2 separate regions of the Homo sapiens genome follow, and region 2 is linked to region 1. The links come from fine-mapping of genetic effects on gene expression. A gene starts in region 1. The other region holds a variant in brackets. All regions are shown on one strand. Distances are from middle to middle.

Region 1 (9,245 bases):
TCTGAAAACTTGCCCTTGCGCATTGCCTGAGGGGAACAAGGACTCAGGCTGTCTCTAAGCACAGGAGCATCTCATTCTCAGCACCTTGGCCCACCCAAACCCAGATGCTCCTCTAGGACCCCACCTCAAAGAGCAGCAGTGACTCCTCCATGGGACGGTCTCTCCAGGGTGAAGGCAGAGTATTATGGCCTTTGAGCTCCTCTCCTCGCTGGTGGCACACATAAGCCAGACCCCTGTGGGGAAGCGGTGTGAGTGCCCAGCATGGCTGTGACCTAGTCAGTCTGCCTGGCTCTACGTCATGGCCCTGGCCTTACCTGCGGATGAGCTCCACAGCCCACGCATATAGCTGGTCAAAATAGTCAGACGCATATGTGACTTTGTAAGGTGTGTAGCCTGGGGCAAAATGAAACAAAGTATGAGCAGCCAGCCACAAACACCCAGTGGGCAGGCCATGGCCCAAGGAGAGGCCCACTAACCACCAGCCCTTCTAGGCTTTGCCTAGTCCATACCTAGCCAGGCTACCATGTCACAGATGGCCGTGAAGAACTTTGCTTCCTCCTTCTCAGGGTTGGTGTCATCAAAACGCAGAAAACAGATGCCATTGTTGGCCTAGGAAAGTTGCACCATCTGTGAACTCCCACATCATCCATCAGCCCCACAATCCTGTTTATCAAACTAGGATATTCACAGAGCACTCTCATGTCAGAATTTTCTTTTTTTTTGAGATGGAGTCTTGATTATCTTGCACCATCTTGGCTCACTGCAGCCTCCACCTCCTGGGTTTCTCCTGCCTCAGCTTCCCAGTAGCTGAAACTACAAGCGTGTGCCACCATGGCCAGCTAACTTTTGTATTTTTAGTAGAGATGGGGTTTCACCATGTTGGCCAGATTGGTTTCGAACTCCTGACCTCAAGTGATCCACCCACTTTAGCCTCCCGAAGTGTTGAGATTACAGGCGTGAGCCACCCAACCCGGACTCATGTCAGAATTAAAAATGTCTTCAAGAGCTTCTCTCACCTTCCTGTATCTAACCTAGCATCTTTCTAAGCCTAGGGACTGCACTGGCAACTCCCCCAAATTTGAACTCACTGACTCCTCAGAGGGAGGGAGCTATTTATTCCAATAAGCTCAATAGATTCCTAGGTATCTGTCACACATGTGGTTCCTTTCCATGGCCTCTGCCCACCTGGGTACATTATTGGGAGCAGACAGCAAGGCAGGGATATGGTATCCACTCATGGGAACAGCAAGTGGTCATCTTGCTTGCCAGGTCCCTAGACACATGCTTACCTTGGCATAGCCAAAGTTGAAATTGATGGCTTTGGCATGTCCAATATGCAGGATTCCATTGGGTTCTGGCGGGAACCGGGTACGTACCTAAAATAAGGGGGATGGGAAAAGAGAAATAAAGTCTGAGCTCAGATGACCTTAAAGAAACAGATGTTCCCTCCCAGGAAGGCCATGGTGATGGGTGAGATGGGGCAGTATGGACGCAGCCCAGGCACTCAGGCAGGTGTTTGATGGCACAAGCTCACATGGCCACATCCCCACACACCTGCCCACCAGTAATCTCCAGGTGCTGCTTTAGTAGATTCATGGTGTGTGGAGTGACCACATAGCCTGGGGTCTTGTAGTTCTCACCTGCCAGGACCAGAATAAGCCTAAGGACCAGGCTGCAGCCAAAGCCTCTGACCCCAGGGGCCTGACTATAGGAGCTGCTGCCAAGATCCAGCCCTCCCCAGGGTTTTGACATGCCCACTAACCAGGCTTGTGGAACTTAAGGGCCTCCCCCCGGAGCTGCTCCATCAGAGACAGGGTCTGGTCAGCAGTCTCGCCTGTGGGGAACAAAACAAGGAAAACTTGTCCTCTAGATACATTTACCATATCCTACAGCCAGAACAGAACTGAGTAGACCCCTATTCCCTCAATTCCAGAGACAAGATATCTAGAGCCAGACATCTGAGGCCTCTCATGCCAGTCTCTGGGCAAAGGGAACAAAAGAAACACCAGGAATCCCAGTCTTGAGACAGAAGTCAGGGTACTGAGTAAGCCAAGGGCCTGAGGAGCCTGTAAGGACTCTTCTGAGGAGGTTCAGAAGTCAGGGAGCTGAATGCTGTGACAGGAGTCTCAAGCTTCTCACCATTCTCCACCACATCCTTTGCCGTCCTCCGGTCTGTTTCTTCTAGCCGAGCTTTTGCCACCTGAAAGAAGCCCCAGGTGCTTCAGAAAATGGCATCAAATTTTCTCTTGGATAGGGTCTTGGGATCCCTGTGGTCAGACACTTCCTTCCCCAGCCTGAAGTCTCACCATACCTCACCTCACCCTCAGGGACTCAGGGCCATGCCCATCCCTACCTTGAACTTCTTCTCCAGATCAGCCTCCAACTTGGGGCCCAGAAGGTGGAGGACCTGAGCAGAGACCAGAATCAGGCAGAGGCAGGAGTATCCTCTTTCAAGGAGCCCCTGACTGATCCTACCCACCAACCCAAGGCTTCCTGGCCTATCTACCAGCACTGACTGAAAAAACCTACCTAGCCCATCCCATCTCTTCTCATGTGGGTCTGCTAGCTTAAAATGCTCTTGCTCTTGTTGCCCAGACTGGAGTCTTGCTCATGTTGCCCAGGCTGGAATGCAATGGCACAGTCTCCGCTCACTGCAACCTCCGCCTCCTGGATTCAAGCGATTTTCCTACCTCAGCCCTTCTGAGTACCTGGGACTGCATGTGCCCGCCACCACACCCAGCTAATTTTTGTACTTTTTGTAGAGATGGGGTTTCACCATGTTGGCCAGGCTGTTCTCAAACTCCTGACCTCAGGTGATCTGCCCACCTCAGCCTCCCAATAGTGTTGGGATTACAGGTGTGAGCCACCATGCCCAGCCCCCTCCCACCTTTTTTTATTGTTGTTGATTTTGAGACAGGGTCTCATTCTGTACTCCAGGATGGAGTGCAGTGGTGCAATCAGAGCTTACTGCAGCCTTGATCTCTTAGATTCAAGCAATCTTCCCACCACAGCCCCACAAATTGCTGGGACTACAGGTATACACCACCATGTCTGGCTAATTTTTAAATTTTCTGTAGAGAGGAGTTCTCAATATGTTGCTCAGGCTGGTCTTGAACTCCTGGGCTCAAGTAATCCTCCTGCCTCAGCCTCCCAAAGTGCTGGGATCAGAAGCGTGAGCCACCATGCCCAGCCCTCTTCCTGCCTTTTATCCCTTAGTGGATTCCAGGCTCTGTTCATGCCAGAGTCTTTGCCAGCTTCAGCTTAGTGAAGCACGCTCACCTGCATGTCCACTTCATTCTTGATCATTTTGCCATCTGCCCACTTCAGCACAGCCCGAGCCTCTCCTAGAAGCATAGGCACAAGGAGCTGCAGAAAGGCAAAAAAGAGTACTCCCCCCACCTCTTTCCCAAGGAAAGGTCCTGGCTGACCACCAGAACCAGAGCCTGAGCCCAGCCAGACCACTTTAAGTCACTCCTGTTCCTTCCCCCACCTCCTTCTCACTCGTGCCCAGAAGAAAAGGCATGACCAGAGAGAACAATATAGCCCCGTTCCAGGCCCTGCTCACCCATCAGCAGCCCCATGTTGAAATGGTAACGTTCCACCAGGAGCTGGGGCCGGTGCCTGTTAATAGCAGCCTCCACCTGCAGAAAGCCAAACCATGTGGTTCAGGAAAGCCACCTTTAGAGATATTCTGGGAACCCACACCCTCACTCTGGGTCTTCCTGAGGAGGGAAACTGAGCCACTCCTTTCCATGGCCAGGACTGGGGAGGCAGACGATGCCTGGGGAAAGACTCACAGCCTCCTCAATCTGCTCTGGGGTCACAATGACACCCACGCCACATTCCCGCTCGAAGTCCACAGTGTCGATGGGGTCCAAGGGGTGACTCCGCACATACTCAAGGGCAGCTGAGAAGAAAGAGCCCGTGAGTTTGTGGCATCTCTGCTCCAAGAAGTGGACAGACAGGGTCCTAATCTCATGAAACTCCAAGGATAGTCTGGCCTCCTGAAAAGTTAAGCCCTGGCACCACCACCCTAGAGAACACAGGGAAGAAAGAAGCACGTGTCGAGAGTGGATCCCCCCTCAGACCCTGACAGTTCCCGTGTCAGTCTCACCATAGGCCACCCCTTCCATGCCTCAGTGCCTGTGCAGAACTAGGTGTCTAGAAAGAAACTGGAGGACTTGGCAAAAAGGGAAGACAGGGGTCTTGGCTGAAGGGAGGCATTGGTGCGAACTGGCAGGACAGGTAGGGGTCTCACCGCTTAGCTGGGGCTCAGTGTGGATCTTCTTACTGGCTATGTAGCTTACAAGGAAGGAGAGACGCCGGGTATCCCTGAGTCGGGAGGCCAAGCCATATAACAGGATCCCGGTAGCTTTGTCAATGGTGGAACCCAGGGTCTGCTGAGCCTGAGGTCAGAGGGGTCAAGAGAGAAGCCCCGCGCTCAGTGAGAGGAAAGGGCGGGACAAACGGGGCAGGTCGGGATCTGGACCCCGCCCCGCGCTGCGTTGCAGCATGGTCTGCAAACCAGGCCGGGGGCAGAGGGGCTCGCACCTGAGTAGCGGCCTCGCGCAGCTGCGCGCTCAGAGCCGAGTTCTTGAGCGTCTCGCGGGCCTTCTGCTCGCTCAGGCCGAGGCTAGTGAAGAGCGACAGGGAGTCTAGAGCCGCCATTGCAGAGACACCGGAAACTAAAAGAAACTTAGGCCCCAGTCTGCAGGTCGGCATTCACTCGCTGACCAATGAGAGTGAAGCCTCCGGGGAGAGCCAATGGGGTCCTTCCTTGGCGGGAGGGGGCGGGGCGCTCCAAGGTCGTCTATCCCCTTTAAACAACACAGGGCGGACAAACCGGCCTTTCCGGGGGCTTTGCTTCCGCCTCCGTGGAACTGGGAACTTGAAGGGGTGTTGGCAGGCGGCAGGGCTTTTGGAGATATTTGCCACGGACCTGGAAGGAAGGTGTTCGTCCCTGAGGCAGGAGGAAGACACAGGCGTGGTTTTGCTCTGACTTTTCTACTTCAGCCCTGGTAACTCCATCTCAATATAGTAATTGTCCTCGGGGGCAAATGCGAGTCCCTGTCACGCTTTTGACGCCACAGCTTTGGAGTTGTCATGGAAACAGTTGAACAAATGAAGCCCAGGAAATCCCTCATCCAGACTCCATCGTAGAGAATGTGTGGAATGACCGATCCAGGGGCCCCATAAGTCCGCCGGTTTTCAGGTGCCCACTTGGACACAGCTGGCCAGGAAAGGGAAGGGACGGGTCTGGGCCAGGAGGGACCTCACATAAGTTCTATGATGATTTGGTTTAAAATCTTGGCCGGGCGCAGTGGCTCAGGCCTTTAATCCCAGCACTTTGGGAGGCCGAGGCGGGCGGATCACTTGAGGCCAGGAGTTCGAGATCAGCCTCGCCAACATGGTGAAACCCTGTCTCTACTAAAAATACAAAAATTAGCCGGGCGTGATGGCGCACGCCTGTAATCCCAGCTACTCAGGAGGCTGAGGCTGGAGAATCGCTTGAACCTGGGAGGCGGAAGTTGCAGTGAGCCGAGATTGTGCCACTGCACTCCAGCCTGGTCAACAGAGTAAGACTGTCTCAAAAAAAAAAAAAGAAAAGAAAAAAAAATCTCATCCCACACTTACCCTCTTGCCAAAGCATTATCAGGAAAACCACAAGCAAATTAGACCTTGAAATCCCTCTGCAGGCCTTTGAGAGGATATTTTATTGAGCTTGTGAGAGGGTGGGACAAATGAGATGGTTATAGCTTCATGATTATAGCTGTTGTGCTTGGGGATCTTTCCACAGTCTCACTGGACTTCCAGGACCTGCTGGCTGAAACAGAACAGAGACTTTGTGTGTGTGTGAGAAAAGGGACTAAGGTAGTAAGGGACTGAGGTAGGGGGTTGCAGAGAATGAGCAGCTGGTGGTGGGATGGTGGAAATCCCCACATTTGAGATTGGAGCTCTTGCAGGAATTGGTGATGCTCATACTTCTGGACCTTCAAGGAATAGGCAGGATCCTGACTAGTCTTTATCTATATTCTGTGTCTTTTGTGCCCACATCCCATTATTAATGACCAACCTCCAAGTCTGGGCCTACATCTGGATACCACCTAATGATCACATGCCAGGTGCAGACCAGGGCCACATGCTGTATCGCTATCCAGGTCCAATGCTGTCCTGGGGCTTCCCACATCTCCATGGCCCCGTGGCCCCAGCCAGATGCCTAGCCCTGCAGTGTACTGCATGAGAAAGGCCAGGTGCAGGAATTAAGCAGGGGATGCAGACCAGTGGTGCTAAGGACAGGTACCAAGAAGCAGAGCCATAGCCACACCAGCCGTGCACCAAATTTGAAGCTGCAAGTACCCAGCCCACCATAAAGGTGCCCATGGTGAGCAAAGCCATGCAGAGTGCCTGCCACTGCCACTATTTCCTCAGTACCTGATGCTGCCAATAGATTCACTGTAGCACCATCACCAAGTCCTACAGGTCTAGTGATGGCTCCCTCAATGAGATCAAGATCTGCACTCCCTTCCCTGGTTACTTCATGGTACACTGTGGACGCCATGGCTACAAGTCATAGAATGAGGCAGTAGCCCCACCAGTGTCACCAAGAATGCCACAAGTGGTAGCATACCAGTCGATATCCAGCTAGTGCCCTAGATGTCTACGACTTGCACAAAGCAGAAATGTTAAATTGTATGGGCCCAGTCTGGAGGTTAGCTTGCCTGCATAAGCCCCTGGCACTGCTTCCAGGAAAAGTCAAGACAAAGATGACCAAGTGGAAAAACCAGGCAGCAGCCAGCAAGGCCCAGTCGTGGAATGGACAGAGGTAGGGTCCAGCAACCTCCTGGGCTCAAACGATCCTCCCATCTCAGCCTCTGAAATATTTGGGACTACAAGTGCATACCATAAGAGCCAGCTAATTTTTATATTTTTGGTAAAGACAGGGTCTCACTATGTTGCCCAGGCTGGTCCTGAACTCCTAGGCTCAAGCTATCCTCCCACCTCGCCCCAAAGTGCTGGGATTACAGGCATAAGCCACCACACTTGGCCAGTTTCAGCAACTTTTTTTTTTTTTTTTTTTTTTGAGACGGAGTCTTGCTCTGTCGCCCAGGCTAGAGTGCAGTGGCGCGATCTCGGCTCCCTGCAACCTCCGCCTCCCAGGTTCAAGCGATTCTCCTGCCTCAGCCTCCCAAGTAGCTGGGATTACAGGTGCCCGCCACTGCACCTAATTTTTGTATTTTTAGTAGAGACGGGGTTTCACCATCTTGGCCAGGCTGGTCTCGAACTCCTGACCTCATGACCCACTCGCCTCGGCCTCTCAAAGTGCGGGGATTACAAGTGTGAGCCACCATGCCTGGCCAAAGAAGGAAGGCTTCAGGAACTCTTAAGGGAAGACTCTTCAGGCTGGCAGGCCCCAGCACCCTCCCTCCAATAGAAGTCAGACAAGATTCACTCTGGTCCTCTCTGCTTGTCCTCTTTTCAGGGCAGCAAGATCTGCCCCACAGCAGTTTTCCTCCTGCTCTGTTACCTGCAGGGATGCAGTTAGTGTTCAAGTTACAGCAAAGAAAAAGCTGAGGACAGGAGAGGAGGAGGAAGATCTCCCAGTACTTCTGTCCCCCAAGTCCTCCCTGACTTGTCAGCCCCAGGCTGCTCTGGTGAATGCACCTTTTACTCCACGCTGTCAGCTCCAGTGCTTCATATACTCCTCTGTCCCTTGGCTATATTGAGATCCTGACGATGCCTACCAAGCTGCCTCTTATGTAGGATCCAGAACCAGTGGGATGAAAGAGCAGCAGGTAGGCTCCAAAAAGCTGATAGCACTGGGGGCTTCATGACCCATAGGACATGAGCTGGGACCCCATCATCTCCCTTCAGACTAGGGCACTTTCAGGGTCTCTCATATATAAACACACATACACACACATACACACCGCAAATGATGGGGAGGGGAGGTGGCCCCAGCATGTGGTGGATCACAGTCACTAAGTCTACTTACTTATTATTTATTTTTAAAATATATTTAAACAGCAGCAGTCACTTCCAAAATGCAAAAAAAATTACAATTTTTAGAATAAAATTATAATGTTTATAATGCGGGTCAGAAGAATTGAAGGTACAACAGAATCAAATCACGCAGCACTGGAGGCGGCTGGAGAAGCCAAAGCCCACTGGTCAGGGGTCCAAGCTGACAAGAAGTCCCAACCTGAGAGGTCTCCACACCCAAATCATACCCCTCAGCTTCCCATTGACAGAGCCAGTGTCCTCTGGGTTAGAGAAGGAGAAGCGGCAAGGAGCTGGCCCTCTGTGTGGGTGTCCCAAACCCAGTCCCCCCCATCAGCCAGGGACCTGCTAATCCACCTCCTCCATGTTGCTGTAGGTGGGGGCTGGCCGATCCACAGGGGGGGCGAAGCGTTCAGGGGCTGTCCGCGTGGGGGCCACCTCGGGGGCCTGGCCAGGGCCTAGTCCCTGCAACAGAATACGAGGACAGGGGTTGGGGGCTGCCCAGCATGCCGCCTGGCATCCCGGGGGTGCTGGCTTGGAGCCCTGGCACCCAAGGGAGGGTCCCAAGGCAGGCGCAGACAGCAGCGGCGTTGAGACAGAGAGACGAGATTGGGCCTGAATAGTCTGGTTTTATTAACACTTTTAAGTACAGGAAGTAGCTTGGGCAGGGCCAAGCCTGAGGCCAAGGGTCAGAGCAGCAGGATGAATGGACAGACAGCCAGATGGATACACACCCTAGGATACTCTGCCCCTGCAGGGGCCACAACCTCCCCACCCTCTCCCACCAGATGCATAAGCTGAGGCCCAAAGCCCAGAGGTGTTCCCCACAACAAAGGCAGGCATGGCCTGGGGCAGGCAGGTAGGCCAGCTCACAGCAGCTGCCTGCAGGCGAGCTCATCTCCAGCGACTCTGGGATACCAGAGGATAGAACACGTTGAGCACGAGGGCCACCAAAGCCGCCACGGTGCCCAGGACAAAGTACCGGAGGCAGCCCTCATCTGGTGTGGTAGGGCCACGTGGTAGGGGGCCCACCCAGTCTTGGGGCCCCCAGGGACCCAGGGGCCCAGACCCCTCAGGCACCGGCTCCTCCTCAGCCTCCAGCTCCTGCCAAATCCGGGAAGCCTAGGGTATGTGGAAACGGCCATCAGCACCCCGGGGGTGGGGAGGACCCAGTGTCCCTGAGACCCTTAGCCATGACAGTCCCACCTGGGGTGACTGGGGCTAACACCCTGCATTCTAGATCAAAC
Region 2 (9,245 bases), 480 kb after region 1:
CCCCTTCCTTTTCCAGCATTATTACTTTTCTGGGCATATTTCTAGGATCTTTTTAGAAGATTATAGGATCTTTTTAGAAGATCCTAGAAATATGCATTTATATCTGTGAACCTATTGTGAATATACACACGCATACTTTTTTGAAGAAAGATCATACTAAATGCATTGCTTTGCACCTTGCTTTTTTCACTGAACAATACGGGAGATACTTCTCCCCACCCTCCCACTTTTCAGAGAATTAGCTGTTTTGGTCCCAGATAACTTTTGTAAGAGACAAGGTGTTGTCTCTTACTGAATTAGAGTAACCGCTGGTGCCTTTTGGGGCTGTTGGGTACTCCTGTGTCCCAGGTGAATCTCCAAGTAAACCACTATATCTTCTGTTCTAGCTGGATTCCTACTTGCTCCATCTCTGAGGGCACTGTGAGCTGCAGCAGCATCCTGCTTGGGGAGGACAGTGGCCTTGTCACCTAGGTTCTGCCTTTGGATTCCAGGGAGCTTCCAGGCTCTTGTCTCCCTTTCTGGCCAGGGCTGTCTCTTGAATGCAGGAATATCTGGGAAATTCCCTGTTTCTTCCTTGGTAAGAGGTGTGAATTCACTTTTCTTTTTTTTTCTTTTTTCTTTTTTCTTTTTTTTTTTGAGACAGAGTCTTGCTCTGTCACTCAGGCTGGAATGCAGTGGCACGATCTCAGCTCACTGCAACCTCCATCTCCTGGGTTAAAGTGATTCTTCTGCCTCAGCCTCCCAAGTAGCTAGGATTACAGGCACCCACCATGATGCTCGGCTAATTTTTTGAAATTTTAGTAGAGATGGGGTTTCACCATGTTGGCCAGGCTGGTCTTGAACTCCTGGCCTCAGGTGATTCACCCACCTCAGCCTCCCAAAGTGCTGGGATTACAGGCGTGAGCCACTGAGCATGGCCTCACTTTCTTTATTCATACCCTCATATCTGGGCAGTCTGCCTTGCTCAGGCTCATACTCATCTGAGCAGAAGACTGCTTTCAGAGGTTCCCTGGGAGCAGGGCCATTGCAGCATGAGTAGTCATTTGCAGCCAGCATCCTGCCTTTCTTCTTGATGCCAGATGGTGCCCTACATTGGTATATGCTGCCTGTGTCCCTTCAGAGACTCAACCCCAATCCGGAAGGAGGGTGGTTCCCATCTCTCTGGAACTCTTCTCCAAAGGTTTTGGTGTTTGGAATTTGAAATTTTTTTCTAGTGCAGTCCATCTCCACCTTGGGTCAGACCTCCTTTCCAGGGCACGATAGTGCTTGGAGTCATTCATTTATTCAACAAATATGTATTGAGCACCTGTTACATGCCAAACACTGTTCTAGGCAGTACTTAATGTTGGCTACTAATTATGTCCTGCTCCCGAATTTCTTCGCTATCTTGCTTGTTTCCCTATGGCTTGTGAGAGGCTTCTGCCTCTAAATTTACCCCAGGAATATGAATTTTGAATTTCTAGGCAATCAAATTACAAGAGTTTGTTCCTGGGTTTTAACTCAAATTCTACCCTACTGGGAACATTTTTTATCTTCTATGAAATGGCAAACAGCTAGGAGACATGTTTCCTAGGAACTGGCCTTCTTGGTGCATTTCAGAGGAAGCACTTCATTTCAGAGGGTTGAGATTGTGAGAGCAGGGCTTGGAGGCCAGGAGTTCCCAGGCCAGGTCCTAGCCTTGCTGCCTGTTTTTCTGTTGACCTTCAGCTGCTTTGTTTCTTTTTTCTTTTCTTTTCTTTCTTTTTTTTTTTTTGTGAGACAGAGTCTCGCACTGTCGCCCAGGCTGGAGCTCAGTGGCATGATCATGGCTTACTGCAACCTCCACCTCCCAGGTTAAAGCGATTCTCCTGCCTCGGCCTCCCAAGTAGCTGGGATTACAGGCATGCACCACCATGCCTGGCTAATTTTTGTATTTTTAGTAGAGATGGGGTTTTACCATGTTGCCCAGGCTGGTCTCAAACTCCTCACCTCAAGTAATCCACCCGCCTCGGCCTCCCAAAGTGGTGGAATTACAGGCATGAGCCAACGCGTCAGCTTGCTTTGTTTCTTTAATCTTTAGTTTTCTTGGAAAAAATGGAAATGATAAGAATACCCACCTGTGTGGTTGTTAGGCAGGTATTATGTAAAGGAAGAGCCTGCTACATAGAGTGAGCTGAGAACTGCTGGGGGTAGCGGGGTTACTGTCCTGATTCCCAGCAGTGAAAGGCATTTAAATCATTACAGGTTTCACACCTAAGTTTTCTTTTTTCATTTTAAACATCACTTGTTATTTTCTAATTTTGTGGATGCTTAATACATTAGCACACTAATACATGCTTACAATTTAGAAACGAATATTGCATATTTGGGGGCTGTAGGCTCGGCTATCCTTTTCTTAAAGACAGGACCGTCCTTGTTGCCCACCTAGGATGGTCTCAAACTCCTGCCCTCAATGCTGCCACAGCCTCCCAAGTAACTGGGATTATAGGCACAAGCCACTGTGCCTGGCTAGTTACTCTTTTAAAAATATCTTTCTGAGATATAATTCACTTACCATAGAATTCACTCATTTTAACTGTGCCATCCAATGGTTTTTAGTGCACTTAGAGTTCTACAACCAAAGCTACAGTTTTTTTTTTTTTATAAGACGGAGTCTCGCTCTGTCGCTCAGCCTGGAGTGCAGTGGTGCGATCTCAGCTCACTGCAAGTTCCGCCTCCTGGGTTCACGCCATTCTCCTGCCTCAGCCTCCCGAGTAGCTGGGACTACAGGTGCCCACCACCTTGCCCGGCCAATTTTTTGTATTTTTAGTAGAGATGGGGTTTCACCGTGTTAGCCATGTGGTCTCAATCTCCTGATCTCGTGATCCACCCGTGTCGGCCTCCTAAAGTGCTGGGATTACAGGTGTGAACCACCGCACCTGGCCCAAAGCTACAATTTGAGAACATTTTCATCACCCACAAGAAGAAACCCCATACCCAAAATGTCACTTTCCATTCTTCCCCCCTCTATCTATCCTCCAGGCCTAAGGTAACCACTAATCTACTATCCACCTCTCTAGATTTGCCTATTCTGGACATTTCATATAAATGGAATCATGCAATGTGTGTTTTGGGGGTTTGGCTTCTTTCACTTAGTGTGTTTTCCAAGGCTCATCCAGGATGTAAGATGTAGTGTGTATCAGCACTTCATTCCTTTATTCATTTATTTGTTTAGAGAGGGAATCTTACTCTGTCACCCAGAGGACATGGAGGCTGGAGTACAGTGGTATGATCATGGCTTACTGTAACCTCAAACTCCTGGGCTCAAGAGATCCTCCCACCTCAGCCTCCCAAGCAGCTAGGACTACAGGCATGCACCACCATGCCTGGCTAATTTTTTTTTTTTTTTTAAGTGACAGAATCTTCCTATGTTGCCCAGGCTGGTCTCAAATTCATGGCTTCAAGTGATCCTCCTGTCTCAGGCACCCAAAGTGCTGGGATTACAGGCATGAGCCACTGCACTCAGCCAGTTACTTCTTTCCTTCTTATTGCCCAGTGATATTTCATTGTATGGATGTACCACATTTTATCCATTTATCAATAAGTATGATTTTAGGTATGGGTTTTTCATAGATGCGCTTTACAATTTTTTTTTTTTTTGAGACGGAGTCTCGCACTGTTGCCCAGGCTGGAGTGCAGTGGCAGGATCTCTGCTCACTGCAGCCTCCGACTCCAGGGTTCAAGCAATTCTCCTGCCTCAGCCTCCTAAGTAGCTAAGATTACAGGCGCCCGTCACCACGCCCAGCTGATTTTTTCTTTCTTTCTTTTTTTTTTGTATTTTTAGTAGAGACAGGGTTTCACCATGTTGGTCAGGCTGGTCTCGAACTCCTGACCTCATGATCCACCAGCCTCGGCCTCCCAAGGTGCTGGGATTACAGGTGTGAGCCACCGCACCTGGCTAGATGCGCTTTAAAAAATTGAAATTCCTTTCTATTTCTAGTCTGTTAAATTTTTTTAAGCATAAAAAGGTATTGAATTGGAAAAGGTATGAAATGCTTTCTGCATCTATCAAGATGATCATGTAGTTTTTGTAATCTTGATAGATGGTTTTTGTCCATCATTCTATTAATATGCTATATTAATTGATTTTTTAGATGTTAAGCCATAATTGCATGTCTGAGAAAAATTCATTTGGTTATTATATTAAATCCTTTCTATATGTCACCGGATTTGTTTTGCTAGTAGTTGTTTATAATTTTTGCATCTATAGTAACAAGATATATTGGTCTAAAGTTTTCTTGTGATGTTTATGTCTGTTTTTTTACAAATTTAATTTGATTATTTTATTTTGTTTATTTCATTTTATTTAGATACAGGGTCTCATTATGTTCCTGAGGCTAGATTCAAACTCCTGGGCTCAAGTGATCCTCCCACCTTATTCCCCTGAGTAGCTGGGACTACAGGCATGTGCCACCACATCCAATTTATGTGTGGTTTTGATATCAGGGTAATTGTGGCCTCATGGAATGAGTTGAGAAGTGTTTTATCCTGTTCTATTTTTTGGAAGAGTTTGTGAAAGATTAATATGAAATCTTAAGACAGTTTTATTGAGATATAATTAATATGCCAGAAAATTTACCCATTTAAAGAGTATAATTCAGTGGTTTATTACGTATTACATTATAAATTTTTTTAGGATCTTGCTCTGTCACCGAGGCTGGAGTGCAGTGGTGCGATCATGACGCACTGCAGCCTCAGCCTCCTGGGCTCAAGCAGTCCTCTCATCTCAGCCTCCCGGGCTCAAGCAGTCCTCTCATCTCAGCCTCCCAAAGGGACTACAGTCATGCACCACCATGTCTGGCTAATTTTTTAATATTTTGTAGATATCAGGTTTTACTATATAGTCTAGACTGGTCTCGAGCTACTGTACTCAAGCAATCCTCCTGCCTCTGCCTCCCAAAGTGCTGGGATTTACAGGCATGAGCCACTGTGCCTGGTCACATTATTAATCTTTTAAAAATGGTGATAAAATATAAATATCATAAATTTGCCATTTTAACCATTTTAAGTGTACAATTTAGTGGCATTAATTACTGTATATTCATGATTCATGTTGTGCAACCATCACCACTATCTATTTCTAAAATTTTTAATCACCCCAAACTCTGACCATTAACCAGCACCTCCCCATTGACCCCTTTCTTCAGCGCCTGTTAACTTTTTTTTTTTTTTCTTTTTGAGACAGGGTTTTGCTCTCATCACTCAGGCTGGAGTGCAGTGGTGTAATCTTGGCTCACTGCAACCTCTGCCTCCCGGGCTCAAGTGATTCTCATGCTTCAGCCTCCCAGGTAGCTGGGCCTACAGAAGTGTGCCACCATGCCAGGCTAATTTTTGTATTTTTAGTAGTAAAGACTGGGTTTCGCCATGTTGGCCAGGCTGGTCTTGAACTCCTGACCTCAAGTGATCTGCCCACCTCAGCCTCCTAAAGTGCTGGAATTACA[G/C]GCATGAGCCACTGCGCCTGGCCTATCCATTTATTGATGGGCACTTGGGTTGTTTCTACTTTTTGACTCCAGTAGTCCCCCCTTATCTGCGGTCTTGCTTTCTGTGGTTTTAGTTACCCACGGTATGGTACAATCATATTTTGAGAGAACACATTCATATAGCTTTTATTACAGTATATTGTTATAACTGTTCTATTTTATTATTAGTTATTGTGAATCTCTTATTGTGCCTAATTTATATATTAAACTTCATCATAGGTTTGTATATGTAGGAAAAAACAAGGCTGGGCATGGTGGCTTACGCCTGTAATCCCAGCACTTGGGGAAGCCGAGGTGGGCGGATCACAAAGTCAGGAGATCGAGACCATCCTGGCCAACATGGTGAAACCCTGTCTCTACTAAAAATACAAAAATTAGCTGGGCATGGTGGCACGCGCCTGTAGTCCCAGCTACTTGGGAGGCTGAGGCAGGAGAATTGCTTGAACCCAGGAGGCAGAGGTTGCAGTGAGCCGAAATCGCGCCACTGCACTCTAGCCTGAAGAGAGAGCAAGACTCTGTCTCAAAAAAAAACCCAAAAAACAAAACAAAAAAAAACAAACTTTGTGTATATAGGCATCTACTGGGGGTCTTGGAACATATCCCCTGAGGATAAGTGGGGGCTACTATATTGTGAATAATGGTGTAATAAACATTGGCATTCAAGTATCTGTTCAAGTCCCTGGTTTTACTTCCTCTGGATATAAACCTAAGAGTGGAATTCCTGGATCATATGGTAATTTTATGTTAGGCTTTTCGAGGCGCTGCCAAAAATTTTTCTGTAGCAGCTGTACCGTTTTACATTTCCACCATCATTGTATGAGGGTTCCAATTTTTCCACGTCCTTGTCAACACTTGTTATTTTCTGTTTATTTTGTTTGTTTTTAGTAATAGCCTAAAGAGTGTGAAGTGGTATCTTATTGTAGTTTTGATTTGCATTTTTCTAATCAATGGCTTATTGGCCATTTGTAAATCTTTAGAGAAATGTCTGTTCAAGTCCTTTGCCTATTTTTGTTTTCAAGACAGGGTCTTGCTGTGTTGCCCAGGCTGGAGTTCAGTGGCTATTTACATTTGCAGTCATAACACACTACAGGCTCAAATTTCTGGGCTCAAGCAACCCTCTTGCTTCAGCCTACTGAGGAACTGGAACTACAGGCCCAGCTGAAATGAACTGCCTTTTGTGTGTTGATTTTATATCCTTCAGTTTTGCTGAAGTTGTTTATTAGTTCTAACTTTTTTGTGGCCTGTTTAGGGTTATCTACATGTAAGATCATGTGGTCTGCAGGTAGAGATAATTTTACTTCTTCTTTTCCAATTTGGATGTCCTTTATTTATTTTTTTTCTTGCCCAATAGCTCTGACTAGGACTTCCAGTACTATGTTAGATAGAAATGGTAAAACTTCCTTGCACATCGTTGTCTTGTTTCTGATTGTAAAGGGAAAGCTTCTAATTTTTCACTATTGAGTATTATGTTAGCTGTGAACTTTTCATAAATAGTCCTTATCATATTGAGAAAGTTCCCTTCTATTTCTAGCTTAAGTCTTTTGAATCATGAAAGTGTATTGACTTTTGTCAAATGCTTTTTCTGCATCAATTGAGGTAAACATATAGTTTCTTCCCTTCATTCCCTTCATTCTATTAATATGGTGTATTACATTTATTTATTTATTTATTTATTTATTTATTTATGAGACAGGGTCTTGCTCTGTTCCCAAGGCTGGAGTGCAGTGGTGCAATCTTGGCCCACTGCAGCCTCTGCCTCCCAGGTTCAAGAGATTCTCCTGCTTCAGCCTCCAGAGTAGCTGGGATTACAGGTGCGTGCAACTACTCCTGGCTAATTTTTGTATTTTTAGTAGAGATGGGGTTTCACTATATTGGCCAGGCTGGTCTCAAACTCCTGGCCTCAAGTGATTTGCCCACCTCGGCCTCCCAAAGTGCTGGGATTACAGGTGTGAGCCACTGTGTCTGGAACATTGATTGATTTTTGGATGTTCAGTCAACCTTGCATTCCAGAAATAAAGCCCAATAGAAGGATGTACAATACTTCTAATATGCTGCTGAATTCAGTGTGCTAGTATTTTCTTAAGGATGTTTGCATCTCTTTTCATAAGGAAAATTGATCTGTAGTTTTCTTGTAGTATCTTTGTTGATATTAATTTATTTTTGGCTGGGCACAGTGGCTCATGCCTCTAATCCCAGCACTGTGGGAGGCTGAGGTGGGAGGATCACTTGAACTCAGGAGTTCGAGGCTGCAGTGAGCTATGATTGTGTCACTGCATTCCAGCCTGGATGACAGAGCAAGACCCTGTCTGTTATAAAATAAAATTTTTAAAAAATAAATTCTTTTTCAATGGTTAGTAGGATTCACCAGTGAAGACAACTGAGCATAAGCTTTTCTTTGTGGGAAGTTTTAAAATTACTTATTCAGTTTATTTATGTGTTATAGGTCTATTCCGATTTTTCATTTCTTCCTGAGTCAGTTTTGATAGTTTGCATCTTGGAATTTGTCAATTTCATCTAAATTACCTAAGGATGTGTGGTTGTTCATAGTATTCTCTTGCAATCCGATTTATTTATTTATTTATTTATTTATCAAGATGGAGTCTCGCACTGTCGCCCAGGCTGGAGTGCAGTGGCGCGATCTCGGCTCACTGCAAGCTCTGCCTCCCGAGTTCACTCCATTCTCCTGCCTCAGCCTTCTGAGTAGCTGGGACTACAGGTGCCCACCACCATGCCCAGCTAATTTTTATTTTTATTTTTTTTATTTTTAGTAGAGACGGGGTTTCACCGTGTTAGCCAGGAGGGTCTCGATCTCCTGACCTCGTGATCCACCCACCTCGGCTTCCCAAAGTGCTGGGATTACAGACGTGAGCCACCACGCCCGGCCAATCCTTTTAATTTATTTAAGATTGGTAGTAACATCCTTTCTTTTATTTCTGATTTTAGTCATTTGAATCTTTTTTTCTTTGTTAAAAGAAGGCTTATTGATTTTTTTTTTATCTTTTGAAAGAACCATCTTTTGGTTTTATTGTCTTTCTCTATTTTCTATTCTGTATTTCACCTCTAATCTTTATTATTTTCTTCATTATATTTACATTGTGTTTAGTTTGCTCTTCTTTTTCTAAGTATTAAGTCGGAAGTTTAGGTTATTGGTTTGAGGTCTTTTCTCTTTTTTGTTTTATTTTCTATTTTTCATTTTTTTGGGCACTTAGTAGGTGTATATATTTATAAGGTACCTGAGATGTTTTGATACAGGCATGCATCGTGAAATAAGCACACCATGGAGAATGGGGTATCCATCCCCTCAAGCATTTATCCTTTGAGTTACAAACAATCCAATCACATTCTTTAAGTTATTTAAAAATATACAATTAAGTTATTATTGACTATAGTCACCTTGTTGTGCTATCAAATAGTAGGTCTTATTCATTCTTTCTAACTATTTTTTTGTGTACCCATTAACCATCCTCACCTCTTCCACCACCCTCCCACTACCCTTCCCAGCCTCTGGTAACTATCCTTCTCTTCTCCATGTTCATGGGTTCAATTGTTTTGATTTTCAGATCCCACGAATAAGTGAGAACATGCGATGTTTGTCTTTCTGTGCCTGGCTTATTTCATTTAACATAATGATCTCTAGTTCTGGCCGTATTGTTGCAAATGACTGTATCTCATTCTTTTTTTATGGCTGAGTAGTACTCCACTGTATATACGTGCCACATTTTCTTTATCCATTCAGCTGTTGTTAGA

The links. PIP is the estimated chance that this variant, and not a neighbour inherited with it, causes the effect.
Region 2: its variant is fine-mapped to the expression of QARS1 in whole blood (INTERVAL, PIP above 0.99).

The regions. Positions count from the first base shown.
Region 1 is chr3:49,100,066-49,109,310 of GRCh38, forward strand. It overlaps QARS1 (glutaminyl-tRNA synthetase 1), which reads right to left and starts at 4,692. Exons shown (of 24, transcript NM_005051.3): 1 at 4,552-4,692; 2 at 4,259-4,406; 3 at 3,798-3,907; 4 at 3,566-3,641; 5 at 3,280-3,344; 6 at 2,354-2,407; 7 at 2,140-2,200; 8 at 1,763-1,834; 9 at 1,555-1,640; 10 at 1,290-1,376; 11 at 510-609; 12 at 315-393; 13 at 125-233; 14 at 1-26. The coding sequence starts at 4,668. It overlaps USP19 (ubiquitin specific peptidase 19), which reads right to left. Exons shown (of 27, transcript NM_001199161.2): 27 at 7,985-8,463. The coding sequence ends at 8,347. RefSeq lists enhancers at 289-789, 3,264-3,914, 4,464-4,653, 4,864-5,023, 5,217-5,866.
Region 2 is chr3:49,575,803-49,585,047 of GRCh38, forward strand. All of the region lies in intron 1 of BSN (bassoon presynaptic cytomatrix protein), which reads left to right. Among named protein-coding and RNA genes, the nearest start is that of BSN, 26 kb to the left of the region's middle. The variant G/C (reference allele first, on the strand shown) is at 5,460.